Linked DNA regions of Homo sapiens: all the other regions are linked to region 2. The links come from fine-mapping of genetic effects on gene expression. A gene starts in region 2. Each other region holds a variant in brackets. All regions are shown on one strand. Distances are between the middles of the regions.

Region 1 (10,530 bases), 100 kb after region 2:
AAATGTGGAATAGCTAGCTGTGGACAGCGTTAAGGTTTTGTTTTTCACGTTTAGGACTTTAAGTCCTCTGGAATTAATTTTATGTATATGGTGTGATGTGGAAATCAAAATGTTTTCCTTATGTTAAGCCAGTTACCCTATTAGCATTCATTGAATTCTTTGCTCACTGATCTATAATGCTTACTCCATTATATATGAAGTTTATATATATGCTGTGCTTGGATTTATTTCTGGTCTCTGTGTTCCACTGATCTATTTACCTTTCCTTGTGCCTACACTATCCTGTTTTAATTACCAATGCTTTATAATAAGACTTCAGGGGAGAGTGGGGCATTGGGTGGGTAAGGCAAGTCTCTTCTTACTTTTCTTGTTCTCTTCAAAGTTTTAATTTGTCAAGTTCCATGAAAGTCTCTATAGGGATTTTTTAAATGTGTATTTACCTTATAGATTATTATATAAATCAGATATTTTTGAGATAATGTGTTTCTATCAATGAATATAGGGTATCTTTCCCTGTACAAGTCGACATTTTTGTTTGATGTATTTTTAGGTACCTTGTAGTTTTGATTACTGTTGTAAATGAACTATTTTTTGTAATATCTTTTTTTTTTTTTTTACTGGTCCTAATTTCTGCATTGTGTGATGGTTCCTCAGTCTTTTTCTTTAATGAAATTTCTCTTTTTTTTTGATAGACTTTATTTTTTAGAGCAGTTTTAGGTTCATAGCAAAATTGAATACAAAGTGCAGAGAGTTGCTTTATACCTCCTGCCCCACACATGTACAGTCTCTCCACTATCAGCATCCCACTCTGGTTTGGAATGTTACGTTTTTTACAATAACGGAACCTCCATTGACATGTGGTTATCACCCAAAGTCCATAGTTTAGGGCTCACTCTTGATGTTGTACATTCTATGGGTTTGGAGAAATGTATAATGACATGTATCCACCATTATAGTGTCATACAGAGTAGTTTTACTGCCCTAAAAAATCCTGTGTGCTCCACTTATTCAACTCTATGTTCCTCTAACCCACTACAACCATTAATTTTTTTTTTTTTTGAGACGGAGTTTTTGCTCTTGTTGCCCAGACTGAAGTGAGTGCAGTGGCACGATCTCCACTCACTGCAACCTCTGCCTTCCGATTTCAAACGATTCTCCTGCCTCAGCCTCCCAAGTAGCTGGGATTACAGGCACCTGCCACCACACCCGGGTAATTTTTGTATTTTCAGTAGACGGGGTTTCACCATGTTGGGCTGGGCGTGGTGGCTCACGCCTGTAATCCTAGCGCTTTGGGAGGCCAAGGTGGGTGGATCACGAGGTCAGGAGTTCGAGACAACCATTAATCTTTTTACTCTCTCCGTAGTTGTTGTCTTTTCCATAATGTCATATGGTTGGAATCGTACAATACGTAGCCTTTTCAGACTGGCTTCTTTCACTTAGTAATATGCATTCAGAATCTTTTCACGGTTTCAGAGCTCCTTGGTTTTTAGTGCTGCATAATATTCCACTGTCTGGATGAACCAGTTTATCCATTTACTTACTGAAAGACATCTTGGTTGTTTTCAAGTTTTGGCAATTATGAATAAAGCTTTGGATATGCAGATTTTTGTGTGAATGTAAATTTTCATCTCTTTTGGGTAAGTACCAAGGAGTTTGATTGCTAGATCATGTGTTAAGAGTATGTTAAATTTTATTAGAAACTACCAAGTTGTCTTCCAAAGTGGCTATACTATTTTGCATTCTTACCAGCATAATTGAGAGGTCCTCTTGCTCCACATCCTCACCAGCATTTGATGTAGTCAGTGTTCTAGATTTTGGCCATTCTAGTAGGCCCTTTTAATAGATGTGTAGTGATATCTCTTTGTTTTCATTCACAATTCCCTAATGACATATGATGTTGAGCATCTTTTCATGTGCTTATTGTATGTCTTCTTCGTTGAGGTATGTGTTCAGGTCTTTTGCTCATTTTTTAATTGGTATGTTTTCTTATTGTTGAGTTTGAGTTCTTTGTATATTTTGGATAACAGTTCTTTATCAGATATGTCTTTTGTAAAATATTTTCTCTCCATAGCTTGCCTTTTTATTTTCTTAAGTGTCTTTGCAAAACAGAAATGTTTTTATTTTAATGAAGTCTAGCTTATCAATTTTTTCTCGCATGAGTCATGCCTTCGGTTTTATATTTACAAAGTCATCACCAAATCTAAGGTCATCTAGATTTTCTCCTATGTTATAGTCTAGGAGTTTTATAATTTCACATTTTACATGTAGGTCTGGGGCCCATTTTGAGTTCATTTTCAAGGGTGTAATGTCTGTGTCTAGGTTCTATTTTTATTTTATTTTATCTTTTGCATGTGGATATCCAGTTGTTTCTGAACCACTTGTTGAAAAGACAGTCTTTTCCCTATTATATTGCCTTTGCTCCTTGTCAAAGATCAATTGACTATATTTGGGTCTATTTATGGGCTCTCTATTCTGTTCCATTGATCTATTTGTCTATTCTTTTTTTTTTTTTTTTTTTTTTTTTGAGACGGAGTTTCGCTCTTGTTGCCCAGGCTGGAGTGCAATGGCGCGATCTTGGCTCACCACAACCTCTGCCTCCCCGGTTCAAGTGATTCTCCTGCCTCAGCCTCCTGAGTAGCTGGGATTGCAGGCATGCAGGTGCCACCATGCCCAGCTAATTTTGTATTTTTAGTAGAGACAGGGTTTCTCCATGTTGGTCAGGCTGGTCTCGAACTCCCAACCTCAGGTGATTTGCCTGCCTCGGCCTCCCAAAGTGCTGGGATTACAGGCGTGAGCCACCGTACCTGGCCTGTTTGTCTATTCTTTCAACAATACCACACTGTCTTGATTGCTGTACCTTTACGTTAAGTATTGAAATTGGGTAGTGTCTGCCTTCCAACTTTGTTCTTCGCTTTCAATCTTGTGTTGACTATTCTCAGTTTTTTCTCTCTCCATAAAAACTTCAGAATCAGTTTATCTGTATCTACATCTATTATCTCTTCTAGTTGGCTCTTTTTTTGTTGTATGAGAATTTTCGATTTTGTGTCCCTTAAAATTGTTGAACTCCAATGAGTTCTAATAGCTTCCTTAAAAATTATCTTGGATTTTCCACATGGACAAATTCATCATCTGTCAATGATGACTGTTTTGTCTATGTTTACCAATGCATATAATTCCTTTTTTCCCATATTATAATATTTCATTAGAGCCTTGCAGTATAAGTTTGAATAATATCAATGATAGTTGTCATTCTTATTTTGCCCCTGACTTTAATTAAATATAATGTTTTCTGATTAGAAGAGCAATATAAATGAAGAAGATTGTATTAGGAAAAAACAAAGACATTTCTTTCTTACAACCCCTCCCCACCCTGAACTACAATACATTTGGGAAACAATCTAGGGGTAAAAATAACCAACAAGATATATATTACTGTATTCAAAGAATTCAAATATGGAAATATTAGAGATACCTGACTGATTCACTGTGCATTCTCAATGCTTGAGTTGGCATTGAGTGTGGATGTGAAGGAACAATGGCAAGGTACAAAAGAGCCTAAGTCATAGGTATTGTATTCATTTGTTCCTTTATCAAACCCTAGCTGGGCACAAACTATAAGCTGAATGCAGTGTAAGACACAGGATACAATAGTGAGCAAGGACAAGTATGGCCCCTGCTGTTTTAAAATCATAGCATATGTTTCATAAATAGAATGCATTAATGAGTCAGTGACTGTCAGAGAAAGGTAAACTTCTTATTGTGATTTTAGGAGGTGATCAAACGCAGAACCATTAAGCATGGCCTTAATTAAGTAGAGTTCCAGCTGCAGAATGGTGTTTTCTATGTATGCTTCTTATTTTTAAAACTATTGAATACTTTTTAAAGGAGAAGAAAAATAAGCTAATATACATCAAATAAAAAAGTATTTAAAATGATAGCTGGCACATCTGGAGCTTGACAGAAGGAATTGATTACCCTACTATCTTATGTCTTGTAGTAAAACTGTTAATTAGGGCACAGGTGGTCCTGCCGGATTTCTGTCTAACTGCAAGAGGTTATTAAAATGAGCATTAATGTAAAAAATTTTTAGTTTCAGCCCACTGTACAAACAGAAATAAAAGTAACTGCCAATCAGTGTAGGTTTTATGAATAATTAAAGGCTGTAAGCTTAGTAAAAAATCTATTTGTTGTAATTTTCTAAAAGGCCATTAGGATGTGCCTTTGAACAGTTTTCTACCCTAAGAGCGAACCTTAGTGGATGTGAATAGCATTTTAAGGCTTCATAAGATTTGCAGAAATTTGCACAGATATCCTTGCACTTCTTTCTCGTTGTTGGATTGCTTATTCTCCTGCTAATGTTGGCTCATTAGTGTCTTGGGAGATGTGTTACTTCCCTTTTCCAGGGAATCCAAAGCACTTTTAGCTCTCATTATCTTTAGATCATATGAAATTTGTGCCATGGTGGGCTTCTATTTCTGGAAAGCCAGAAATCTCATAGTGGTAAATCTCCTTGGCAGTGTTTAAATTTCACTCTCTGTCCTTAGCCCATAGCTAGTTAAGTGTTTTAAAACTAAAGTATCTGGGATTTTAAAGTTTGAAAAGGAAAGAAGGACCTCCAGGCTCTGTTTTATTTTTGTCATTACGTGTCTTTGCGACCTCGGCTTTGTGATTTCAATTTGTATCTTGCAGGGGCTGGCGTAAAATTTGGTAACCTCAGTGATTCCTTCCAGCTCTAATATTTAAAAATCCTGTTCTAACAATGTTTTCACTTTTTACATTCATTCACCTCAGTCACAACCTTGGGACTATTTTATTCAGGATTATTTTAGGTGCATGTGACAGAAAAACTAACTGAAAACCAAAAAGGGAATTTTTTGCCTCAAGGACTCTGTAGAGTTTAACAGTCTCAGCGAGGGATTGTCCTGATAGCCCCAAAAGAAGCTTTGCTAAGCGATCTTGTTGGAAGGATGAAGTGCCCACCTCTGGAGCAGCAGGAGAATGGCAGGGGGAAGTAGACAGGTCAAGTCAACCCCACACAAGCAAAATACATGGCTCTACAAAGAACACCAGCAGAGGGGAGAATGGCTGCTGGGCAGGCAAGAGTAATGTGATCACCCCAGAAGGAATTGTTTGCACTGTCTCAATCACAAGATTTAGAGAGGAGGTGCCACCCTGAGACTCACACAGGCTAGAAAGTCTGCAGGCAGAATGCAGACTCAGGTTTTCCAACACCTGGTCTCTGGCATTTCCAGCCACACTCCCACTCTTGATTAGTAATTTTCAAGATAATGAGAGTAAATATGTAACTTGTGAAAAGGCATTCTTATTCTGCTTTTGTTCCTGGAAATTGAAAGGAATGAATTGAAAACTCATAAACTCTTCAAGTTGTGGGTAATAACATTTTTTCTCTCTTTCTAGGATAAACCAGCCAGGAATTCAGGTTAAAGTGTTCTTCATGTACCAAAATATTTTACTAAGATATTACAATATATATGATATATCAAAGTGTATAAAATGGTTTAGCCTATTGTGTTTTTGGTTTTGGTTTTG[GTTTTGT/T]TTTGAGACAGTCTCATTCTGTCACCCAGGCTGGGGTGCAGTGGTGTGATCATGGCTCACTGCAATCTACCTCCCAGAGTCAGGTGATCCTCCCACCTCAGCCTCCCAAGTCACTGGGACTACAGTCATGTGCCACCATGCCCAGATAATTTTTAATTTTTTTTTTGGTAGAAATAGGGTCTTGCTATGTTGCCCAGGCTGGTCTCAAGCTCCTGGGCTCAAGCAGTCCTCCCGCCTTGACCTCTCAAAGTGCTGGGATTACAGATGTGAGCCATGGTGCCCAGCTAGCTTATTGTGTTTAGCTTTTAAAAACATTATTATTTTTAAGAGGCTAGAACGGATAAGAGAGAAGCCAATGTTTTACGTTAAATTGTTTTTTCTAAGATCATATAGGATACATCTTTGATTCCTATGTTCAAAGAATGTATCCTATATGACCTTATAATCCTGTATTCAAGCTTAAATAGGCATTTGGGGTGGGCATATGGTTTCAACAACCTGCTAACTCTTATTTGCCATGACAGTGAACTCCAGGTAAAACATTCAAGTAGGAAACCCCAGGATCTGGTAATCAAGGTGGACCTGTTAGACTCGGGGTCCCCAATCTCTGGTCGATGGTTTGGTGCCTGTCCGTGGCATATTGGGAACTGGGCTGCACAGTAGGAGGTGAGTGGCAGCAAGCAAGCATTACCCGCTGAGTTCCACCACCTGTCAGATCAGTGGCAGCATTCGATTTTCACAGGTGCGCGACCCCTGTTGTGAACTGCACATGCAAGGGATCTAGGTTGCGTGCTCCTTATGATAATCTAGTGCCTGATGATCTGAGGTGGAACAATTTTATCCCAAAACCATCCCATCTCCCCCTTCCTCTCCAAGTCCATGGAAAAATTGTCTTCCGTGAAACTGGTCCCTGGTGCCAGAAAGGTTGAGGACTGCTCTATGAGACAATCTGAGGGGTTTGATTTTTTTTTTTTTTTTTTTTTTGAGACGGAGTTTTGCTCTTGTCACCCAGGCTGGAGTGCAATGGCGCGATCTCAGCTCACTGCAACCTCTGCCTCCTGAGTTCAAGCGATTCTCCTGCCTCAGCCTCCCAAGTAACTGGGATTACAGGCATGTGTCACCACACCTGGCTAATTTTTTTTTTTCAGTAGAGACGGGGTTTCTCCACCTTGGTCAGGCTGGTCTCAAACATCCCACCTCAGGTGATCCGCCCGCCTCGTCCTCCCAAAGCGCTGGGATTACAGGTGTAAGCCACCATGCCCGGCCTTTTTTTTTTTTCTTTTGATTACCCTTTGTCTAAAGTCCCAGCTTTCCAGATCTACTGTGAGTAACAATCACATCACCAGTAACACGATTTTGGAAAACTTAGAGGTTTTAAGCCCCCTTTTCAAGTATATGTATGTAATATTGGGAGCAGTCACATGTTAGCAGGACTCACCATGCGAGGCATTTGTGAGGTTTGAAACTGGACACCAGTGAAAAGGCATATTCTACTTTGGAGCAGAATATTCCAAAGACAAGATATTCATATTGCTTTGTCACAAGAAATGAAATTGATGATAGAATATTTTTAACAGTATAAATAAGGCTTTCCCTTTTTCATGTGTAGAAGAAAAAAATAACCTTTATACCTGTGGAATAGCTTCTGCTTTTATGGTCTTATAAATTTTTACTTTTTATTTTTAGTTGACAGGTTCTTCTTTTAACGTAGCACCATATTAGACTTTACCTTGATCCTTTGGTAAATACATAGCTAATATTTAGGAGAATGCATGACAAATGGGATTTTAGAATGGATGTTAGTAATAAAATTAGGGTCAGCAAAGACAGGCTGACTTGCTTAATATAATTATTGTCATCTCAGATTTCCTTTACCTTTCTGATAATATGTGTTTAATTTTTTTGGAAGAAATTTAAGTTATCTTAAAAAGCTATAGAGATATTATTTTGAATGCTCTCCTTTTGATCTTCTTTCCATCTAATTGCTGAGTGTTCTAATAAAGAGTGTTTACGCTAAAAAATGCTACGTTATAAGAGGAGTCTGTTGGCTGTATTTAAGTAATTAAAAGTTTATGCTTATTTTTTGGTGGTATTTTCAACCACGTACATTTCCCAAGACTTTCACAGCCTCTCAAAGGATGGACCAGGATCCTCTCAGAATTGATTTTTCCAGATGGTTTGTTTCTGTCCTTTTCTTTTCTTTTGCCACATCCTCGATACTGTGTCCAGCAGCGCCCATCACTCTCATTTCTGGTCAGCACAGGCCAACACCGATTGTCTGATAACCCCGCTGAATGTGTTGTTTAGCATTTGTCAGCCAAGAGGAAAGAAGTGTCATGTGTTTTCCCCTAAAATAATCAACACAACATTCTTGTCTTCCTAATTGATTGATGATTCCTAGGATGTTTTCCCCAAAAGAGAGAGCTTTGCCTAACACCATGCTGATTGTTGAAGTTTGTAAAATCTGTCTCCTTCTCCAGTGCTATAATAACTCATTGTTCTAACATTTCCAGAGATCGTTCTTCTGTCCCTGCTTGCTGACAAATTTTGTATATTCACGTCCTGTCTCCACCAGTGCATGTTCTTGTTGAGCAGTGATCAATTCAATGTTTGATGGGTTGTATCTTTCTTTTTTTTTTAAGTGAGATAAAACCATCATAAGAATCTTAAAACAGTAATTCTTAATGCATTGTAAAGTTAAAGCATATTTGAAAATGTAAAATTCTTACAATCAAGAAAGTAATAGCACTGGTAAAGCCCAGGAATAATTGAAAATGCATTCAGCAGATGCTTTGTAAATTTTTTCTAACTCTCCCACTGGGATACAAAGAAAATTGCCTTTAAAAAAAGTCCCATGACACTATCTTTTGTAATTAGAGCTATTAAGTCGAAATGATAAATAACCATTCAATGGCATACTATAAAAGAAAATAGCCCTTTTCACAGATTTCTCCTGATGAGCAGGAGATCTGAGAGTAGTGAGTATAAGAAGTTAGATTCCTTTAACCCTGAGAATTGTTTAGAATTAAGAAAATCAGAAAGCAAGGCAAGATGATTTTCTTTTTAATCCTTCAATATGGTCATGCCCATTAAGATAGTAAATGAAACAGATTTGCCAAGGAGGTGAATAATTATAACTACAGCAGCGCATACTCCAGAATCCAAGGTTTTTGAGGTCTTGGTTTTCAAAAATACTTGGGGCACTTCAGTCAAGCTGTGTAACACTTAGTAGACAAAGCTAATTGAATTGCTGTAAGTGGAAGCTTGTTCCTATTGTAGGGAATTTGATCCTGGGAAGAACTGAACACTGATGGTGCCAGTAAGGTGACGTTGCCCAGAGCAGGTTACTGTCTGGTCTTGTGTGGTCCAGGACAATGATTTTAAGCTCTTCAGAGTCCTACTTCTTCTTGCACATGTTTTATACACATTGCTAAGCCTGGAGAAACAGTTTCCTGAGACATTGAGCAGAGAGGTGGGTGTAAGGCGGGGGAGAGGCATTAAAGAGAGAATCAAGTTTTCTAGTTGAGAGCTAAGAAGCAGCTTCCAGCATTGCAGCTCCTGGGAACATGTTTTTTGTGAGGAAACTAGATGAGCATAATGAGTGTACCCTGTGCATAAATCCAATATTAGTTCTGTACCCAAGGTCAAATGAAAGTTAATGACCATTTACACACCAGAGATCTGAAACCCACATTTTATTTCCTTCTCATAATGACAAAAGGGGAGAGCAATTTATATTTAAATTAATTTAAATTTCAAAGCATAAACACAGAGGTCTCCCTGGCACCTCCACTTTTTTTTTTTTTTTTTTTTTTTTGTCAATGAAACTTCCTGGCAGGGCTCAACTTTCATGAAAATGAAATCCCATCCTATATCATTTTCCCAATGTGGACAGGTTTTTATTTTTTGTGGAACTACCTCATTCTCACCCTGCTGGGTTAGTGATACCAAATCAGAAGTCAGCAGTGCAATCAGGGCCACTTTATTTAATGATTTAGGTTTTGCATTTGTTGAGCTAATTAACTGATTGTGGCAACTAATGGCTGTCCTTAATACACTGTTGACTGGGCAGCTACTCCCCTGAAGCCTGCCAGCTCCTTTGTCCTTGGTTCCCTGGTTAGTGGAAGCTGCTTCCCAGATGAATCTGTGATACATGCCACCCAGCATTCTGAGGCAGGGCCCAAGAGGCCATTATGCTAATTACCAGGTGCCCTAAACAGGACATGCATCCACTTATAACGCTGTATCTGACAAATTCTGTGTATTTGGGTAAATAAAGGTTTGCACTGGAGGGTACGTGAGTGGTTGCTGGGGGGGTGGCATTGTCTATGATTTATTTTTAGAATTTACAATTCTGTGACTGCTTCTCTGTAAGGTACAACATTTTAATATTATTATTGCTTTTGCAATCTGTAGATGTTTTAAAATATTAAATATTAAAATATTTGAGGAAATATTAGGAGATCACATAATTAAACAGAAAACTTTAATGGCTAAAATCATGTCTCTTATATACTAAAATATTCCTTAAGAAGAAAAATCCTTGCCATATGCTATTCTTATAGAGTTATGAAATTCTGTGGAAAACATGGGCTTCTACCAAAATTTAGCAGTTCTGGGGGTGTGGCCAGGAAATTTGACTCCTACACTGGGTGTGTTCCCCCTGATTAATCACTGTCTTTTTTCAGCCTCAGTTTCCATTCTTTTATAAAATGCAGAGGTAGGCTTGGTCGATGACTAGAGTACCATGCTGGAGGTCATGTCCTAAGTACCAAGTACTAGGAAGCTCCCCTTCTCTCAATTATACATTGCTGTCTATTCCACAAGAATATGAGAATAATAATTACTAATCATTTATTTTCCTTCCTAAACTTTTTTCATTTTATCGACTTTTTTCCTAGTAAAAATCTACTGAAGGCCTTTTTTTCCCCCCGGGGACATTTTCTTCTGTCATTTGTATTGACAAGTAAGAGC
Region 2 (10,530 bases):
CTCTCTATAGAGAGAAGGGGGGTCTTCCCAGCAGAAAAGACTGGCTGGTGGTGGATGTGCCGGATTTTATAGTTCGGTTTGAGGAGGCAGTGTCTGATTTACCTAGGGCTCACAGACTGGTTCGATCAGGTGTGACGTTTACATAGCAAGTGGGGAAGACTGGTCGCCCCATGCTAATCTTATTATGCAAATGAATTCTCCCTTTGGCCTGCACCATCTTTTCTGGTCCTCACTGTACACATGGCTGGGAGAAAAGGGAAGTTGGAGCCGCCATCTTGAATATGTTTAGACCCTAGTTCCTGCTGACATTGACCTGTGCAAGCTCCCAGCTTGCTTGTCTATATCTGCAGCTCCACTTTACAGGCTGCTCTTTGTTAGAAAATGATTTGGTACTGCTTTTCATTATAAAGGAAAGTCTTTCCAAGGACTCCCATACCCTTACTATTTGCCTAAGTGATTTCTTCTTAACTCCTGTATCACAAAGTCTGCTCAAATTCAAAGAGATGGAGAAAGAAACTCCATCTCTTTTCGGGGGAGTGGCAATATCACACTGCAGAAGAGCTTGGAAGATAGGAGATGCTGAACTGTCCATCTTTGGACAATACACTCCACAACACCATCTGAAGTATTTTTCTACTGCTCCTATGCCCAAGGAGCCTTCTTTTGTACTGTCTAACATCTAACCCCTCATTTCTGTTTCCATTGCCGCAATGAATTCAGGCCCTCATCACTTTGTAGCTAGCTCATTGTCAGAGCTATCTTCCTGGTCTTCAATTTCGCTATCCTGCCAATAGCCTTAAAATTTGTGTTTTCTTACCATGGGTCTTTACACACACTTTGACTTTGATGATCTCATTCTCTTAAGTAAAATTCAGCTCTGGTACCCCATCCTGTAGGAAAAATTGCAAGTGGCTGGCAAGTGGTCTCGTTGACTTGTGTGGTTGGCACAAATATGATTTACATTAAAAGAAATTTTTTTGGTCAGGCGCAGTGGCTCACGCCTGTAATCCCAGCACTTTGGGAGGCCAAAGCGGGCGGATCATGAGGTCAGGAGATCGAGACCATCCTGGCCAATATGGTGAAACCCCATCTCTACTAAAAATACAAAAATTAGCTGGGTGTGGTGGTGCGTGCCTGTAATCCCAGCTACTCGGGAGGCTGAGGCACGAGAATCGCTTGAACCCAGGAGGCAGAGGGTTGCAGTAAGCCAAGATCGTGCCACTGCACTTTAGCCTGGTGACAGAGCGAGACTCCATCTCAAAAAAAATTTATTATTATTATGGGTAAATCATAGCTGTACATATTTATGGGGTACATGTGATGTTTTGATACAGGCATAGAATATGTAATGAGCAAATCAGGGTAATTGGGCTATCCATCACCTGAAGCATTTATCATTTCTTTGTGTTAGGAACATTCCAATTCCACTCCTTTAGTTATTTAAAAATATACGGTAAATTATTTTTAACTATAGTCACCCTATTGTGCTACCAACAGTAGATCTTATTCATTCTAATCCATTTTTATATGATTTACATTTTTATAAGCTTTCATACTGCAAAATCAGATTTTGTATAGAAATCCAGATTAAACTGTTTGAAAAACTTAGTTCTTATATATGAAATAATTGAATTATTCAACTCATGTGTTCTAGATACTGAACAAAAGAGAAAAGAAGCCCTGTCCTTATGTCATATACATTTTAGTTGTGGGGAGGCAGACAATAGGCAAAATAAATAAAATATATAGAATATGGATGGTGGTAAGCTCTGTGGGGCATTCGGAAGGGGATGAAGAAAGGAATGGATAGGAAAGACTGCAATTTAAAATCACATGGTCATGGAAGGCCTCACTGAAATGGTGACATTTGAATTTAAAAACTGAAGACACTGACTGAGAGAAATGTGGATTTCTAGAACTGCACTATCCAACATGGTAGCCACTAGCCATATGCTGCTATCTAAATTTATATGAATTAAAATTAAACAAAGTTAAAAATTCAGTTCCTCAGTCACCCTAGCCATGTTTCAAGTGCTCAGCAGTCACATGTGGCTAGTAGCTGCAAAACAGATAACAGAAAATGTGCATCATTGTAGAAAGTTCTGTTGGACAGCATTGCAGAGGACTCTCATTCCAGACAGGGCACAGCGAGTATAAAGGTTGCTTGATTTGAGTTAAACAGTGACGTGGCTCTTCTGTGTACACATCCTACTATTCCCTGTTGTTTGCCTATTTTTATCCTGAAGCTAAATGGCATTTGTCATTTATCACCTTAACCTAAACCAATTTTCCAAAGGCCCTTCTTGAACTTTAGACGCTTGGTCTATCCCATAGAATCTAAGGAATGCTGGCCTTGCATTGAGCAACTGTGTGAATGGGTTTGAAGACCAGGAACCTGGACCAGGAGACGGAACACGTGTTCTACTTTGGAGTAGAGTAAGTTCATGGTATGATTCAATGTTGTCATTGGGGTGATGGGGCGCAAGCACCCACTAATCTGAGTGTCCTGGAGGGCTTCTAGTGGGCCAGGTGTTCACCCTTTAGTTGTATGTCATGGGGAAGTTGGAGGTATGGGGGTGAGTGGCACTCTGGGGCTCAAGACAACGACCAATTACCAACTGGAGCTGCAATATCTTAACACTGTAAAAACGGATAGAGTCTGACATGGTAACATACAAATGCAATTTCAGCCTTGGATAAATGCATGTGATAGGTATTTGGAAACTGTAATGGACTATGGAGTCCTATTATAAAGTCCTTTCCAGTTAACACACACAGCTTAAGGTGACAGGGTTTAAGGCCTTCTGCAGTGTGTTACTAGCATCCATTCTGGTATCTTCTCTTACTTCTTCATTATGTCATCTTTCCCTTCACTAGCATGACATATTTTCAGTGCCCAGTGAGTTCTGTGTGATACCACCTTTGTGTTTTTCTCATGTCTTTCTCTCTTTTTTTTTTTCTTTTTTGAGACGGAGTCTCACTCTGTCGCGCAGTGGCGCAATCTTGGCTCACTGCAAGCTCCGCCTGCCGGGTTCACGCCATTCTCCTGCCTCAGCCTCCCGAGTAGCTGGAACTACAGGCGCCCACCACCACGACCGGCTAATTTTTGTATTTTTAGTAGAGACGGGGTTTCACCTTGTTAGCCAGGATGGTCTCGATTTCCTGACCTCGTGATCCGCCCGCCTCAGCCTCCCAACGTGCTGGGATTACAGGCGTGAGCCACCGCGCCCGGCCTCATGTCTTTCTTCCTTACTTGAAGGACACCTACCCTCCTTCTGCCTGGTTGAATCTTCCCCACTCACCCTTAAGGTGCAGTTTAAACTTCCTTCCTTTCGTGGATTTAGCTTTGCCCATCCCAGGCCAGAAGCATTTCTCTCTCCTGTGGCCTGAAGTGGTCTTACCTACACTTACTTGGCAATTAGCAAGAGTACAAGTGCAATATCTTTGTTTTTCTGGATGTTTGTCTACTCCTAGGTTAAGTCTTACCTTCCTTAAGGGCAGAGGTCACAGTTCGTTCCTCCTTTTTTGTTACATGGCATGTTTTTATACATATTTGCCAAGCACCTACCATGTGAGTGGCTGAGGGCACAATGGTAAACCAACTCTGGACCCTGACCTCCTACGATTCTTGTCATTTTTTAAAAATGTGAATAAGCTTATTCAACTTTTGTAAGTCTTAGACAAAGATGGGGATCCCAGCGCCCCACTGATGAGAAGTCAACACCCTGGCTGGCCCTTGTTGAAGACAGATTGAGCTGAGATGTGAACATTCACACTCCCTGGCGTTTAAGGCACTGCTGGAATAGTTTCACTCTCAATGATCCAGAATTCCTGCCTCCTGGAAGGGTGTAAACAATGATTCACACCACGGCAGGCCTTTACAGTTCACCAAGCACATTCATCACAGCAGCGGGCTTTCAGGGAAGGTCAGGTTCTGACATGCTAACAGAGATTCACCTTCAGGTCACCAGACTTGCAGCTACTCTGCTCAACACCTATCATAACCAACAAAAGTTTTCTCCCTTCGTCCTTTAAGGATGCGTGTGCCAAGAAGGGTCGGCGCAAAGCAATTTTGCCTCATGGTGTTTGCCTTGTAGCGTGTCTATTTTGAAGTTCCTTGGCCAAAACAGTTCCCAGGAGTAAAGATTACGATGAGGGGCCAGGCTGTGCAAAACGCGCGGGAGGGCGGACGACTCTCCAGCACACTTGGTTGAAGTCCAAGTCAACCCCTGGCTATTCGAAGAAGTGAAGCAGGACTTTTCAGCCTAAGGGGTAGGGGGACAGGGACAGGACAGAAGAGCGGGTTTGCCGGAGATTCTGGGAATTCTGCACCTGTGGATGAGCCGGTGCCCAAGGTGCCCTCTTCCTCCCGGGTCCCGAGTGGGAGATCCGAGGGGGACAGGTCCCAGGCAGCTTTCGCAGGCGAAAGGGCGGGGCGGGGCGGGGCCCGCGCACCTGGGCGGGGAGGGGAGGAGAGAGGAGGGGAGGGGAGGCGCGCGGGGCTGAGCCTCGCGGGGGCCGCGGCGCGCGCCAATGGGCAGCGGCTGGCAGCGCGCCCCGCGCCCGAGCCGCAGTCGCGCCCTCTCGCTTCCTGGCGAAGGCGCGGACGGCGCGCGGAGGCGAGCGCGGTGGAGAGGAGCCCCCGGCGCCGCAGCGCCGTCAGGGCATGAGGATGGCCGTGGGCTCCGTCAAGATGCAGCCGCCGTGCGAGAGCCCGGCCCTGGCCGCCGCGGCGGCGGTGGTGGCGGCAGACGGCCCCCTGCGCCGCAGCCCCAGCGCCCGGGAGCCCGAGCGCGAGCAGCCGCCGGCGTCGCTGCGGCCGCGGCTGAGGGACCTGCCCGCGCTGCTGCGGAGCGGGCTCACGCTGCGGAGGAAGCGGAGCGCCGCTGGGGGCCGGGTGAGTGGCCCGGCCCTGTCCGAGTGGGCACGGGCGGCGCGCACGTGGAGCCCGCGCCCACCCCCCGGGCCGCTGAGGGGGGCGTCTGGAAGTTGGGGAGGTGGCGGAAGGGACGCCCTTCTGCCGGACTCGGCTGAAGAGGGGCCCGGGACGGCGGGTTTTGAGGTGCCACCCCCTGAGCGACGGCTTCCCCCGCCCCCACACCTCCCCCCCACCAGGCTGCACCTGACTTAACCCCAGGGCCCCCAGATTCAGGCTGCGGGACCGGGCATCGGCTGAAGACGAGCTGTTTGCCTCTTCTCGGAGGGGAAGCTGCAGGTGTCCAGCGTCCAACAGCCAGCCAGCCCTGTCCCAACCGCAAGCTTCAGGCCCCACGAGCGGCATCCCTGTTTGCAGGACGCATGCGACGTGTGTGCTTGTTTTGGAGGTGCTGTTGCAAGCTCTGGGCATCGAGACTGGTTTTGGTGGTCTCCACCGCCGAGGGGCAGACCCAGGAGTCGGAAGCTCTTGGGTGAGCTTCCAGTTCCTGGGTTCCGGTGTCTCCAGCACTTAATACTCCTGGACACCCTCTTGAGCAGGAGGGTGCACGCCCCCAAGAACCTTCAATATTGACTTCCTGATGGTGTGTTCAGATACGATTTCCTGGTGAAGGAGTGTCCCTCATTGAGTTCTAAGTGCATCTAATGACCTGAGCAGGTCAGGCATGTTTTGTATTTTTAAGAGAAGCAGGAAGGTCTGCTGATTGTCTCCTGGGATCTTTAAGAAGCCACCTAGGAGGCCCCGCCAGGGCCTCAGGACACAGAGCTGACTTACTCAGATTTCCCTGCTCACCAGGGTTTGGCGGCACCTTTGGTGGGTTCTACTCATCTTTTAAAAATTTATTATTAAGTGGTCTTTAATGAGAAGCTGCATCAATGTGGTTTTTCTTTCCCGTTTGGCTGTAATTTTTAAAATGCAGTCTTGTCTGACTTAAAACAAGACCTTGCTGGGAGACTTCTAGCTCTTTCAGAGATGGGTTTGTGTAAACTTGAGAGTGAGGGATAACCACTTGTTTTCATGCGCCCTCCTTTGGGTAGGGAAGGGTCTGAACTGATGTCGGTCTTCAGCTTCTCGAGGCTGCATCTCTCTTTTCCTAGGCATTTTCCATCTCAGGTGGAAAATGGTCCATCCCAGGTCCATCTCAGAAGATGTTCTGAGGATTCTCTGTGTGTGATGGGACATTCTTAAAGTCGGTGACCCAGAGAGTTTAGGAATTGCCCACAAGTGACCTTAACATGTGTGGCATTTAGGATTGCCTGCAAAGTAAGTGAGGAAATGTGTCCCCAAGATGTGGTGTCGGAATAAACAAGAACTGGAGTTATAGACTTTGCAGGAATCCAGGGAAAAGTAGGTCAAATTATGTTTCTATTATCCTTGACGGTTACTTTTTCATGGCACAGAATACTGAAGACATGAGGGCTGCCAGGCAGTCTGCGACAAGAATTGCTGAGGGTTTCTGTATAAATAGATCTATAGTATTTATTTGCGTTCATACTCATGTTTCTTGCTGCCTGGGAGGGTGTCGTATACCTTGTCAATATACCTATTTAGTTTTATTTTTTAATTACTCTGAATGTGGTTACCTCAGATAATGTATGCTTTATTAACCCTCTTTGATTCTAATACTGTATTATTTCTTTTTGGGACTTTCCAAACACATTTCGTAACTGCATAGCCAGTTTTTATTGAAGGAAGTTTGATTGTCAGTTTTTCCAGTGTTGGAAACCCATACTTTTTGACTATTTATTTGACTGTTTATTTCCCCTTTCTTCTGCCTTGGAACTACCTTTGTGATTTTGGAATCTTCCCCATCAAAGGAGTAGGAAGGGGGTTGAAAGAAGGAGAAAAACAAGTGAAATATGAACTTGTCTTAGGCAGCTCAGGCTGTCATAACAAAATACCGTAGACTGGGTGGTTTAAACAACAGGAATTTATTTTCTCACAGCTCAGGATGCTGGGAAGCCTGAGATCAATGTGTAGGCTGATTAGGTTTCTGGTGAGGGCTCTCTTCCTGGCCTGCAGATGACCACTTTCTCGTATATCCTCTCATGGCCTTCCCTTGGTAAACGCAGAGGAAGAGAGGGCTCCCTCTTCTCATAAGGCCACTAATCCCATCATGAGGGCCCCACCATCATGACCTAGTCTAACCCTAAATAATTATCAAAGGCCTCATCTCCAAATAATGTCATGTTTGGGGTTAGGGCTTCAACATAAGAATTTTGTAGGGGGCATACACTTAACAGTCCAAAACACAGGGGGTTTGAAAGAAAGAGAGATACAAGTAGAATATGTATCAGACTGGTTGGTTGGTGACTTGTTAGCATCTGGGATTGTCTGGTTAACCACCTTGGATTGGGCAGTGATGCTAATGCAAACAAATCATGGCTTGGATCTTTTTGTAGACCTTCAGCTTTGTGTCTCATGGGCCATACCTCCAGACTGGAGCTGCGTGACTTCAGGGATAAGTTAACAGAAATCCATTACCACTAGTAAAGACACAGCTTTGTGCATTACATGAGTTAGTTGAGTTTTCATCTCCTATATTGACCAAGATCTGATTTAGGAATATGTGTGGTCCTTATCCATGCTGCCCTGGGCTCCCACAAACCTGGACAATCTGACATCAACTGACATTAACAAAGTTCTTTGTGGGTTGTGTTGCTCAACCCAGGTGCATTATAGGCTTTTTTTGTTGTTGTTGTTTTGTTTTGTTTTTTTTCTGAGACAGGGTTTTGCTCTGCCACCTAGGCTGGAGTGCAGTGGTGTGATCATAGCTCACTATAGCCTCGACCTTCTGGCTCAAGCGGTCCTCCCACCTCAGCCTCCTGAGGAACTGGGATACAGGCACACACCACCATGCTTGGCTAATTTTTTTTTTCCTATTTCTTTTAGAGACTGGGGGTCTCACTACGTTGTAGGCTATCTGTTACTAGGAAAAAATCAAACTGCCATTTGGTTAATATGCCTGAGTTCCTTGGTTCCTCAGTTCAGTCACTTCTAGTTGTGTTGAATTCAGCATGCATACTGGTTAAGACTCTTTGCACTTCTTTAAGACAAATGAGGGAAAGACTAAGTTGTACATTGTGGGAGGGCCCTAACTACCTCTTAAAAATCAGTAGCAAAGTAATGCACAACCTGAGTTCCTGACAAAACCCTTTAATTTTTTTAATTGTATAACAGAGATTATGAGAGAATGGTATAATGAACACCTGTGCTTCAACAGTTATTAGCATTTTGCCAGTCTTGTTTCATTTATTTTCCCCCTCCATACACTTTTGTAGGGGCTAGTGCATTTTAAAACAAAATTCCGTACATCATGTTGTCTTACTCACAAATTTTTCAGTTTACGGTCCTGATAAGGACATTAAAAACAACAGCAAAACTTTGCCTTTTTCACACCTAAAATATTAATAATTTAAAAATATAATTTCCATATTCAAATTTTCTCAAAGTTGTCTTTTTACTTATGATTGTTGGAAACAGGAGCTAAATGAGGTCCACATATTGTATTTAGTTGTTAGGATTTCTAATTTATTTTATAACAGCTTCCCCTCCCTTTTTTCATGCCAGTGATTTGCAGAAGAGAGTGGTTCATTTGTGCTGTAGAACATCCTACTGTCTGGACTGATTCCTTGTGGTGATGTTTAGCTTGTTCCTCTATTCTGTTTCCTGTGATCTGGCAGTTAGATATAGAGGTTTGATTAGATATAGGTTCAAAGACAAGTAACCTTCATGGATGGTGCTGTGTAAAATCTATTGCATCACATCGTGAGACGCATAATGTCTGGATATCTCTCTTTTTGAGATGGAAAGATTGATTCGTGAGTTTAGGTAGTGTCACTTAGCTGTCTGTCTTCTACTTAATGATTTTAGTATCACAGATCGTTGTAGCCTAGATCCTTTTCATTAGGGGTTGCAAAATGGTGATGATCTAAATCCATCATTCTTCTTGCATTTATTAATTGGAATTCGGTCTGTAAAGAACTTTCCCTCATAAATTATTTAGGTCTCCTGAAATTCACAATGTGCAGGATAGACAGGGAAAAGTCTTAATTTTTTCCTTTTACCAACTATCAGAGTAATGATTTGGTGCTTTAACAATCTCCAGTGAGAACCAGTGAGTTTTTCTTTTTTAAGTGTCATTAAGAACTTATGAATCTTAATGTATTTGTTTCTGTCACTTCAGTCAATATCCTTTTTGGTGCTTGGTTTATCTTTGTCTCCTGTATACTTTTTAAATGGCCAGTAAACTCAAATACCTTTCTTACTTTTCTGACGCAAGATATTCTAAGTGCATCTTGTCCATAGTCTGCTGCTCCCGACCTGAAACCCTGAAATCAGCCATTTTCCCAAGGAGCATTGATGAATTTTTTTTTTTTAAACTGACAATCGTTCATTTCCCCATCTTTTACCTTTCTTAGTGGTTGCATTATTTTTCCCTTGGTCTTAAGCCTCCTACCTTACTTTTTTGTATCTTTTTAAGTCTTTCTCATCAGGTTGTTTCTAAGACTGATATTTTCCCCCTAATAAAAGAACTGATAACAGCTATTCCCTTTTTCTGTATATACTGTCAAAATGCTGGGACTGACTTATTTTGGGCTTTGGCTGCTGTGATGTTTTCTGCAGCCTCTGCCACTGTCTTCAACGTCTTGGTATCTGTTTCATTTACAGCAGCCAGAATGATTCACCAGTTGTGCCAAATTGCTCACCAAAGACCTTCAGTGATTCCCAGCTTTTGGATTGGTCATCAGAAGGGCCTAATTCTCTTTAACCACCCTTCACTAGCCAGGGTTCTTATGGCCTGTGCTCTTCAAAATTGAGAAACTGGGAAGAACAGCTGGTAGCCCTCTGAATGAAGTTCTCTCTTTTTCTTTGCCCAGATGATTCCGTCTCAAAAAGGAACAAAGTATCCCTTTCCCTTTGTACAAGCTGGAGTGCTTTAGCTCTGACTCAATACCCTCCTCTGCTAGAAACTTGACTTTATTGATTGAGAAATAGAAACCGATCCAAATTATATACCAGTATGCCCAATGTATCGCCGTTTTAGGCACCTATTTTACAGGCAAAGCATGTCATTTATTCTTTGTGTTTAAATTGAAATCAATGGCTAACATCATAGCACTTAATTATGTACCATGCATATTCTGATATAAACTTCAACTCTCACTACAAGCCTATGAGCCTATGAGTTAGATGCTGCTATTTGCATTCCACAGATGAAGAAACTGAAACACAGGTGTAATTTGCCCGAGGTTACAGAGTGTGTGCCAGAAGGGAGGTTTGCATCTATGTATCCTGTTTCCGTAGAGCCAAGTCCATGCTCTGAATTAACTTTAGTTTTCCTCAAATGCATTGAGAGGGCAAAGGGTCTATTTACTCTAAACTGTGATAGCCTTATAGTACCTGCTGATATTATCTTACCACTCTGAGAGAGGTAAATAAATGCCATTAATAATGTCAGACTTTTCACTTTTATTTGGGCACACAGAAGCTTATTATTGACATATTGGGTTTAGGGGAAGTGGGGAGAAGCATTGTGGTTATAGGCGAAAGGTAACTAATGTTTACTTAAATTAAAAATAGCTCAAGATCAG
Region 3 (10,530 bases), 240 kb after region 2:
GCTGGTCCATTCAGAGAAATGCTGCATGCTGCCGTCATGGAATGTGGCCCACAGGACACCAGAGCCGTGAGAACCGGAGAGCAGACTTCCCTCACGGCTGGGCTGAGCAAACCCTCCAAAGCCCTCCTCACGCAGTTACTAACAATAGCATGGGCTTACAGCACAAGCACGTGTTCTCACCTTTTTCCTATGCCCTGGACTAAGGTTTGGCCAGTGTAATCATATAAGGCCATCCTGACATTGTTTCTGTGTTTCAAAATTTGGATTTTTATTTACATTAGAACTACATTGCTCCTAGTAGAACATTACCTTTAGGGGACTAATTTTCCATGGAGAACTATTTCAGCATATTGCATGCTGCTCAGACCCCAAGTCAGATATGCCCACCAAGCCAGATGAAGCTACACAAATGTGGTATTTAAATGCATTTTGTACAGTGACTTCAGAGTATCTCACATGACATGGGTGTAAACTGGCTGGGGAGAAAATGATGCTTGTTCACCTCTTCCTCCAGCCGTGGTTAGGTGGTCCTAGGGGTAGCAGAGGGAAGGGAGGATTTTGTGCAGTCAAGATTTGCTTTTCCATCCTTGTCTTCTGAATGTCTAAAATCTCTGCATCTTTCTGAAGTTTAACAACTGTCTCCAGAGGTTTGCCAGGCAGCAGCTCTCAGAAGTTTCCAAAGCTTTGCAGAATCTTAGATCTGGAATTAAAGAATTCAAGCCCGAATTGTGAGAACCAGATATTACTCAACAGAAAGCTCTTTCTAAGGAATCTGAGCTGTTCACTGGTGGACAGTGGTGGGGCTTGAGTGCTCCTTGTTAATAGGATGGGCCATGCACCCTCTCTGGATATTCACCAAGGCCTCTTCAGAATAGGGTTTGTTCTGGCTAGAAGCGTGGTCTAGAAGATGGCTAAGCTCTTTGCCAGCTCTCATTTGGAGTTTTATTATTGCATAAAATCTTCGCTCACTCTGCAAATCTTACGTAATCTGGCACCTTCGGCACCAGGTGGTGCAGGGGCACTTCTAAGTGGGCTCTTTTTGTTACAGCACAACTCTCAGACAGTCCTGTGGGTCTTTGGATTCGTCAGCATTCCAGCAAACTAGCCCTGCTTAGAAGTTAGCACAAGACAGCAGAATGCAGGACCCCGTAGGCAAAATCACAACCTTGCTATTAAAAAAAATTTTGTTTTACATACACATTTGCAGGTGTTCCCTAGAGTGTGGTGTTTTGAATTTGCTCTTTGTCATCTGTATAATTGCCAAATGATTATAGTGATACACATGACCTGCATTCACTTTTTTCTAGTTTCCTTAATTATGTTTAGAATAAATTCATTTCCCTAGACCGAGAACCACAAACAGGTAGTGTGGAGCATACACCGAATTTAGAAGCATGTGGATAAGGTCAGTGCTCACACTGCCTAGTCCACAGGGAGAGGATGCTGCATGAATATATACTTGCCTCTGAGTGGAGGAGAAATCGTGGCATGAAAGAGAGAGTACCAGTGATGACTTCTTATCCCTGGAGCTGGGCTTTCACTGCTACCCATATCCCAGCCCTGCGAGTCTGTTCTAGCCAGCACAGACACCGCAGATCCGGAACTGAATGTTCCTAAATGGCGCAGCCAATCCAGGCTTTTCAGAAACTGGGCAAAAACATTAAAATGGGGACGATCGGGTCTTCCGCAGTGGTCCAACACAGGATTTCTTTTAAATGTTTCAAAAACATGTCCTTAAAATTTCAGCCTGCTTCTTAGCGAGTGGGCCAGTTTTGCTTAAAACTGGTGGGGGGGCGGGGGGGAAGTTTTTAAAAATTGCCAAAAAGTTAGATGCAAATGTATTACTGTATAAAGCAAAGCTGTATATACTAAACATTTTTTAGCAGAGTAATATTTATTTGCATAGTCTATTTATTGTATTCGTATCACACTGTTATTAAATACTGGGATGAAATCAGTGACCTGAAGCAAGAAATCTTGCCTTTTAATGTATCATTAATTAGGGCTGCTGTGATATTGTCAGCTTGCATTAACAATTAGAAGATAGAGAACCCGCCATCAGGGTGTCTACCTAACTTCTCAGGGACTACACTTGGTAGTTTTCCACCATTTAAAGAACTGGTAAATATGAAACATTTGTTGAGTTACCAGAATTGCCATTAACAGTGTTTTCTTTCCCATATTCCATGCTTTCTGCCTCTGTGTATATATATAATATATATGTATATGACTGTGCTGTGTATTTATCGAAGCTAGTAAGCAATAATTTATATGTAAAAATGGCCAAGCAATATAAGGTTAAAACTTATATAAGTAACCCTTACCTTATCTTGTATTTTCAATTTTTTTTTAAAACTGCTTTTCCAAATATGAGACTATGTTAAAGACACTATTCATGCCTCTTAGTTTCTTGCTTTCTCTGTGATGTGTGTGGATTAAATAGCTCTGTTCTGGCAGCATATGATGCTCAGGGGGTTGGAACTCAGAAGTCATTTGCTCACTGAAAGAGCTACAAGTAGATGAAGAGGTTCTCAGGCAGCCCATAGAAGCCTAAATCACTTATCCTGCCATTGGGTTATTGCAGAACCTAAACACCCTATTTTGGAAATTGCATCAGTGTTCTCAGAGTCTGAAATCTGGGGAATCTGGCAACCATTGTCATTGCCTCACCCTACTTGAGCAGGACCAGGAACTGTCCCTCACCAGCCCAGATACTGAGTGCAGCTACCAGCCCAGTGGTGATGCCCGGGGCCCAGGATAGAGGTCCTGACAGCGGAAGAGCCATGAGTGGATGGAGCAGCACAGGGATAATAAGGATGCTCTGGGGCAGTGGGATGCCAGGCGGTATATACACTAGCGCAGACTGAGTGTTCAGCATCTTCTCTCTGTGTAAACAGGAAATTTGTACATCTTGCCCATCGAGGTCAAGTTTGGCCTTTGGCATGTGTCCATCTCCCCCTTGCAGGGGGATTATAAACCTCACCTTCTTGAACCCAGGAGTGGCCCAGTGTCTTGCTCTGTCCAGTGAAAAATGGGGAGACATGTCTGTGGAAGCTTTATGAGGTAGCCTGCACCTGCCATGCCTGCTGTGCTGTGAGACCTGCCCTGCTCCAGATGAAGGCACCCCTGTCAGCCTGGGTCCTGGATCACAGGAAACATGGAGCAGAGTCCTGGCTTGTGAACGACGTCTAACTTGAGTGAGAAATCAGACATCATCACTAGAAGTCTCTGAGGTCTGGTAGTGGTTTCTTACTCAGCAGAATGTAGCCTCAGCTGACTAATACAGTCTCTCAGGACAGTCTTTTCTTGACAAATTGCCCTTTCCCTCCGTCCACTTGTGGGCGGCAGTATTGGCTCAGCACAGTACCTCGTGGATGAAGCCACCTGTTGTCGCACATCCATGCAAAGGGCTTGGCTTTTTATGAGAAATGGGAAAGAAGACCTGAAGATAATTTTCTTGGGTTTTTCATCACCAGGAAGTGGCACTTCTGTGAAACAAGGGGAAATGGGAAGAGAAAACACAAGGGCATTGTCTCTAAGGCAGCCACTGGAAGAGAGAAGTCCTGATCCCTAAATCACTTCATCTGTAGGGGCTGACCCCATGGGGTCCTCCTGGAACCTGGAGAATGCAGGAGATGAAGGGAGAATGGGAAGAAGCCCTAGGTTCCAGCTTGGGAAGGGAATAGGAAAGAAAGAGAAATACCCATTGCTAAGGACGTGATGAGATTTTCTTCAATTTCGAGTGGGATAGCCGGTACTGGGAAGATGCACAGG[G/C]CTCCCGTGAACTCAGAAGCCTGTTCCTGTTAGCAAAACTCAAAACTCAAAATGAAACTTCTGGTCCTGGCCCTGGTGCACTAGCAACAGAATCCTACTCAAGGCATGAGGTTGCGTCTGAGGTTTTTTGTCTGAGGTCTTCTGAATACCCCATGAGCCTTTGCTCTTCATTCACTACTTTCAACAAATGAGATTCCTAAAGCATTAGACTTGCTGATGTTCTTTACTGAAGTACTCCTGTTACTGAAGGCAGCAGGAATTTCTCTTGCCTAAACAGAGCCATAGCAGTTCCCCTTCCCAGCACCTAAGCAGCAGGGCTGACTTTCTAGGCAGAAAGTGGCATCCTGAGGACTGAGCTAGTGCAGGGCTCCTGGGGAATGCACTCAGATCCCTGATCCAGCCAGACTCAGAGCTGGGTCCAGTCGCATTTCTTTATTTTGTTTCTCCTGCCCAGGAGAAACTCGGCCTGTGTTTGGCCCCACTGTGGCTTCTAATCATCCATCCTTATCCTGGGGATGGGGGTCTTCCAAGTGTTGGGAATTGAGACAGTACCCTATGGTTAGCTTTATGGGCATTTCTGCCACAAGGTCATGTCACTGCTCACCACGGCAGTCCCATAGTAAACTCTGTAGCCACCTTCTGAGTCCACTGCTCTCCCTCCAGCCTGGAGTTAAGGAACTTCCAAATTCTCCTCACGTGACACTTGTGAACCAGGGTAAACCAAGCCCCCCCTGTCTAGCCATATCATGTCACCATTATTTTCTGCTACAGCCACACCGTGAAGAAGATCTCAACAGGTCTGGAAATCTTCCTCTAAAAGAACAAGCTCCCCTGTTGGGGATTCACGCCATTATCTCTGGGTGGTTCCTATATTCCCAGGTTTCCAACCTGGAAATGGGTGGGTAGAAACGCCAAGTTCTCCTGGTTGGACTTTTCCTCTCCCTGGAAGACCCTGAACAGCAGTCCCAGCCTCAGAGGCTGGCTTGCCCGAAATGCCACCATGGGAAGTAATAGTGTACCCTTGTCTCTGGAAGGCCCCTCTTACTCACAGACATCTGGAAGTTCCCAAGTTGTGTGAAAGTTCCCAACTTGAGTGAAAATCACTTCCTGAGAAAATCCCTCTACTGGTCACCTTGTTCTTGGGGTCCCGACCAAAAAACAACACGACATCAACAGAGGGCAAAGACATTGAAGTCTCAAAAGCAATTAAAGCAATTAGCCCACCTGGAAGCCTTGAGACAGCGGCAAGAGCTGCTGCCCAAGTTCTTCAAGTTCTTTTTTTTTTTTTTTTTTTTTGAGATAGGGTCTCACTCTGTCACTTAGGCTGGAGTGCAGTGACATGATCACAGCTCATGCCTCACTGCAGCCTCAACCTCCCCGGGCTCAGGTGATCTTCCCACCTCAGCCCCCCTAAGTAGCTGGGACTACAGGTGTGTACCACCATGCGTGGCTAATTTTTGTATTTTTTGTAGAGATGGGGTCTTGCCATGTTGCCCAGGCTGGTCACAAACTCCTGGGCTCAAGCAATCCTCCCGCCTCAGCCTCCCAAAGTGCTGGGATTACAGGCATGAGCCACCGTGCCCTGCCCTTCCCAAGTTCTACAGCAACAACAGGGCTGTGGTGTCTCAACTCTCAAGTCCCTTTCAAGGTGGGAAATCTGGAGGCCAGACTGAGAAGGATACGTATATACCTCTGTGTAACTGTGTGTGTGTGTGTGTGTGTGTGTGTGTGTGTGTCTTGGCCCTAACTAGAGCAGCCCAGGCCACCAGAATTGCCTTCAGGACAATGAGCTCTTCCCCATCAGAGATGTGCAAACAGACCCGAAATCAACCAGCAGAGATGGTTGCAAGGGCAATCCAGAAATCAGATGACAGCCGTCTCAGGAGACTTTTAAGACCCTTTCAGCTCACGGTGGTTAGGAAAGCTGGTGTAGACCTGCAGTTGCCAGAACTAATTAGTTTTTTGGTGTTTTTTTTTAAGTGACTTGACTAATGTAGGAAATAAGAACTGTTCATGCTTCTTTGTATTCAGTTGACCTGGGCTAGGCCTCAGAAGCTGGAAGGGAAAAGGCCGTGGGAGGATGCCGGAAAGGAACACCTCACCCCTTCCCTGTCCTGTGCCCACTGCTGACTCCACAGTCCTACCAGGGATGAATGCCTGCAATAAACAAACAGAAAAGCCCCTGGAATCAATGCATCACGGCATGCTGCCAAGTGCCAAGCTGGCTACTGCCTCCTTAAGGGTAGGGACTTGGTCCGCCTGGCTCCTCACTGTACTCCTGGCCTCCAGCTGTGCAGCCCCATCCTGTCTCATCTCCCAGCCTCCCTGCCGGGCCCCAGCACTCAGGTCTGGCCTGTCCCTTCTCTGCCCACTCGACACAGTGTGCCCAGAACTCCTTCTCTACCTACCAAATAAGGATTGGTGCACTCTGAAGCCCTCCTGGATGTCCCATCTGACATCGAGCCCCTGCCCCCATCTCTTATCTGAATTCCTGCAGCCGATTGCACCTGCTACTCTTTCAGGAACCACCTTCCATTATCAAGAGCTGGGAAAACTGGCGAAAGTTTCTACCTTGCTCTTCACTGCTGTTTCTGCATCTCATAAAATGCTCCCTACCTCACAAGGTTGTGTGAAAAGTAAAATGAGAAAGTGCATATAAAGTGCGAAATACAGTGCCTGGTACATAGTTCACATCCAATTAGTGATACTTTATGTGTGTGTATGTGTATGTGTGTGTGTGTGTGTGTTTAAAAGCAAGGTCTCACTCTGTCACCCACAGTGGAGTTCAGCAGCATGATCTTAGCTCACTGCAGCCTTGAACTCATGGACTCAAGGGATCTTCTAGCTTCAGCCTCCTGAGTAGCTAGGACTACAGGTGAGCACCACCACACTGGGCTTATATGTATGTATGTGTGTGTGTGTGTGTGTGTGTGTGTGTGTGTGTGTATATAATTTTTTTTTAAGAGAAGAGATCTCGCTATGTTGCTCTGGATGGTCTCAAACTCCTGTGCTCAAGCGATCCTCCAGTCTCAGCCTCCTAAAGTGCTGGGATTACAGGCATAAGCCACCACGCCCGGCCTGTTATTATTATTAATACAGGATGCATGCCAGAAGATGTGTACCCACATTTTTCCTCAATCATTGAATATACATGGCTGTGGGTAAGTCATTTGACTTCTCTTATCCTCATTCCCCTTCTTGTCAAACAAGATAATAGAACATTTCTATCACAGGGCAGTTGTGAGAATGAAATGGACAATGCATGTGCGAGTTCTTTGTTCATGCTAAAGTGAAATAAGAATATGAGAGATTTCCTTTTGGAATCCCCTCATGCCTTGCACAATGCCAGGACAAAGCAATGGCTCCCTAAGTATTGGCTGATTTATCTGAATGAAGGTATCTTCCTATAGCTTGCCAAGTTGGGATAATACTCCTGTTAGTATTCATGCTATTATTATTCCTGTGTTTGGAGGCAAAAATGCTGACTAGACCTTGGGCCACAACTTCTCTGAGGACTGGGCAAAGCGCTCTTGCTAGATGCCACCCCATTCCTTTCCCTGCTGGCCCTCTGCAGGGACTCCAGGCCAGGAATCCCTGAACAGCAGCTCCCCTTCCAAACCTTGAGCTGCTGGTTTGCCACATGCAAGCGTCATCATTTCTGACAAGGGCCTGAAAACAGCAGGCTGTTCACTGTGCTCTGTGGTGTGCTCTGTGCTTGGAGGAAATCTCTGCTTTCATTTAGAACGCAGTCTGCAAGCTAAAGGGCAGAGCCTGCACTCTGAGGCCTGGGTTGAGATGAAGTCCCCATTGTAAAAGCAGGAGAGGCCAAAAAAGGGATGGTTCACCCTGGGCCCCATGTTATACTTGCATGGTGTTTTTCTTCCTTAAATCAACCAATAGCTGACCCCCTCACCCACCTCTCTCTACCTGGTAATATTAGCTCATTCACATTAGTCTACAGTGGCCCTCATCAGCTCCATCTTCTATCCTATGTACTGATCATCTACTGTATGCCAGGTACTATTCTAGGTGATGGAAAAACAACTATGAACAAAGACCCCCCCTACTTTTTTTTTTTTTTTTTTTGAGTCAGAGTCTCACTCTGTGGCTCAGGCTGGAGTGCAATGGCGCCATCTTGGCTCACTGCAACCTCCGCCTCCTGGGTTCAAGCAATTCTTCTGCCTCAGCCCCCCGAGCAGCTGGAACTACAGGCACCTGCCACCATGCCTGGCTAATTTTTGTATTTTGAGTAGAGATGGAGTTTCACCATATTGGCCAGACTGGTCTCTTGGCCAGGCTGGTCTCAAACTCCTGACCTCGTGATCTGCCCACCTCGGCCTCCCGAAGTGCTGGGATTACAAGCGTGAGCCACTGCGCCTGGCAAAGACCTCTTCTTCATGGACCTTTGATCCAAGGAAAAAGGCCATAAACAGAACAGGTAAGTAACATGTAGCAGACACATTAGATGGTAATAAGGTTCTCAAGAGCAAAAAAGCTAAGGCAGGGAAGGGCATTAGGGAGTGCCAGGCTCCCTAACTGGGTGGGATCTTAAGTAGGGTACCTAGGGAAGTTCTTTGTTATGAGTTTACATGTGTCTCCCTAGAATTTAATATTTAAAGTCCTAATCTCTGATACCTCAGAATATTACCTTTTTTGAGATAGGGTCTTCACAGAGGTAATCAACTGAAAATGAGGTTTTAGGGTGAGCCTGAATCCAATGTCACTGGTGTTCTCCTAACAGGGAAATTTGGAGACAGACACAGGCAGGGAGAACACCCATGTGAGCATGAAGGTGGCCACTCATGCTGGGGGTGGGGGATGGAGGGGAGTACCTGGAGCAGACCTTTCCTTCACAGCCCTCAAAAGCAACAGACCCTGCGAGCACCTTGATCTCAGACTTTCAGCCTTCAAAACTGTGAAGCAATACATTTCTGTTGTTTGAGCCACCCAGCCTGTGGTATTTTGTTACAGTAGCCCCGAGAAACTCATGTAGCTTTGCTGGGAAGACCTGAAGGAAGTGAGGGACCCACCCATGCAAATCCCTGGGGGAAAAGCATTCTGGGCAGAGGGAACATCAAGTGCAAAGGTGTCGAGTGTGCCCCTTGGAGTTCAGCAACCAGCGAGGATCCTGGTGCAGCTGGAGCCAGTCAGGAAAGGAAGAGAAGCAGAGGAGGTCAGAGATAACTGGGGCCAGATCACATGGAGCCTTGATGTTTACCTTAAGTCAGATGAGAAACCACTGGAAGATTTTAAGCAGAGAAGGACATGACCACTCTGGCTACTGAATTTCAGACCAAATAGGGGCAAAGGTGGAAGTAGGGAAATCCGTGAGCTTATTGCAATAATACAAGCAAATACCATGGTGACTTCCACCAGGTGGTGGCATGGGGTGATATGACATAGAGTCATTCTGGATATATTTAGGAAGATACATCTGATATGGTTTGCTGATAAATTAGATATGGAGAAAGAGAAAGTTAAGAGTTAACCACAAGATTTTTGGTTTGACCAGCTGAAATCATGGAATTGCAACTAATTGCAATGAAAAAGACCTTGGAGATGGCAGGTTTGAAGGAGAATAGCAGGAACTCAGTTCGGGACATATTTGGTTTGAGATGTCCACTAGATAGACATGGATTGGAACTAACAATAATCTCTTTGTACCAAGTCTGACTTGTGTGCTTGATTTAGGGGACTTTCTACATCATCCACATCTGGGATTTCACCAGTCAAAGCCATTCTATGAGCTGGGGTGTTGTGCTGGATGAATACTTGCTCAATAATGATGCTTCAAACCTCCAGGTCCAAGCTCCAAGCATTGTCAGCACAGCCATGTGGAGCAACTTCGATGCACAGAACCTCTTCAAGTCCAACCAAATAGACACCACCCACTTGGGCAACAAGCCATCTCAGAGGGCAACCACCTCATGGGGCTCTCGACACTCTTCCCCTAGCAACCATACTTCAACTTTGACTTCACGGTTTGTTTAGTGCTGCCTTCTCATTCGGGCCTTCCTTTCCAGAAGAAATGTAGAAATATGAATTACACTTCTGTCATTAGAGATTCCAGAGGCTTCAATTAGGCAAGCTGAAATAAAATCTGTCTAAAAGACACGTAGTAATAGGCCTTTGAAACAAGCTTCGAGGTGGTCCCAGACATTCAGTTCCAATTTCACATTGCATAGCCAGAAACAAACTTGTACCTCAATGGGAAAGAACTTTTCAGACAGTCCATTATTTTTTTATGTTACCTTCTTTTGTCATCAAAAAATGATCTGGATCTCTTCTCTCCTCCTCACTTAAGTAACTTTTCTTCATGTCCTGGGTCATGCCCCAGGAATTTTTATCTACAAAGTGCTCAGCCTGGTGCACAATGCACATTCGCTGCTTAATAAATATTTGTTGCCTGAGATGCGTGCTGCTGGCATGACCAAAATGTGAGACGTTAGCGACATCTGCTGGGGATATGGTGATGGTGTGCAGAATTTAAGTCAGAAATGCATGTTTTTGAAGGGCTGAGTTAAATCAAATGCCACAATGGGGCACTGTTGGAAGCTTATGTCTACAGTGATGAGGCCATGGCTTTGCAGCTCTTCCTTACCAGGATGTGGTCCAGTGGGTTATTGTTCTCCTACAATATAATGCAGCCTTGTTTTTTTAAAAATACAGAAATCAAGAAGATGGAAAAGGAGCTGAACTGGGGAAAGCTGAGGTTTGCACAGGTCTGTTGGCTCCTAAGAAAATGAAGAAAGTGAG

Which allele goes with the higher level. Alleles are on the strand shown, and positions count from the first base shown. SD is a standard deviation of normalised expression in the study named.
For the expression in pancreas of the gene that starts at base 4,573 in region 2, T is the high allele of the variant in region 1 and GTTTTGT is the other (small effect, 0.38 SD a copy in GTEx).
In carriers of allele G in region 3, the expression in gastroesophageal junction of the gene that starts at base 4,573 in region 2 tends to be higher than with C alone (small effect, 0.16 SD a copy in GTEx).

Evidence for each region. PIP is the estimated chance that this variant, and not a neighbour inherited with it, causes the effect.
Region 1: its variant is the best candidate, but not a certain one, in a credible set for the expression of RAPGEF5 in pancreas (GTEx, PIP 0.72).
Region 3: its variant is the best candidate, but not a certain one, in a credible set for the expression of RAPGEF5 in gastroesophageal junction (GTEx, PIP 0.79).

What each region holds. Positions count from the first base shown.
Region 1 is chr7:22,250,619-22,261,148 of GRCh38, reverse strand. The region is part of intron 7 of RAPGEF5 (Rap guanine nucleotide exchange factor 5); the gene reads left to right. Among named protein-coding and RNA genes, the nearest start is that of RAPGEF5, 100 kb to the left of the region's middle. The variant GTTTTGT/T (reference allele first, on the strand shown) is at 5,551.
Region 2 is chr7:22,351,197-22,361,726 of GRCh38, reverse strand. It overlaps RAPGEF5 (Rap guanine nucleotide exchange factor 5), which reads left to right and starts at 4,573. Exons shown (of 26, transcript NM_012294.5): 1 at 4,573-4,897. The coding sequence starts at 4,667. RefSeq lists silencers at 4,428-4,817, 4,878-5,107 and enhancers at 5,228-5,297, 9,506-9,555, 9,846-9,955.
Region 3 is chr7:22,110,165-22,120,694 of GRCh38, reverse strand. It overlaps RAPGEF5 (Rap guanine nucleotide exchange factor 5), which reads left to right. Exons shown (of 26, transcript NM_012294.5): 26 at 1-2,459. Among named protein-coding and RNA genes, the nearest start is that of CDCA7L, 170 kb to the right of the region's middle. The variant G/C (reference allele first, on the strand shown) is at 3,775.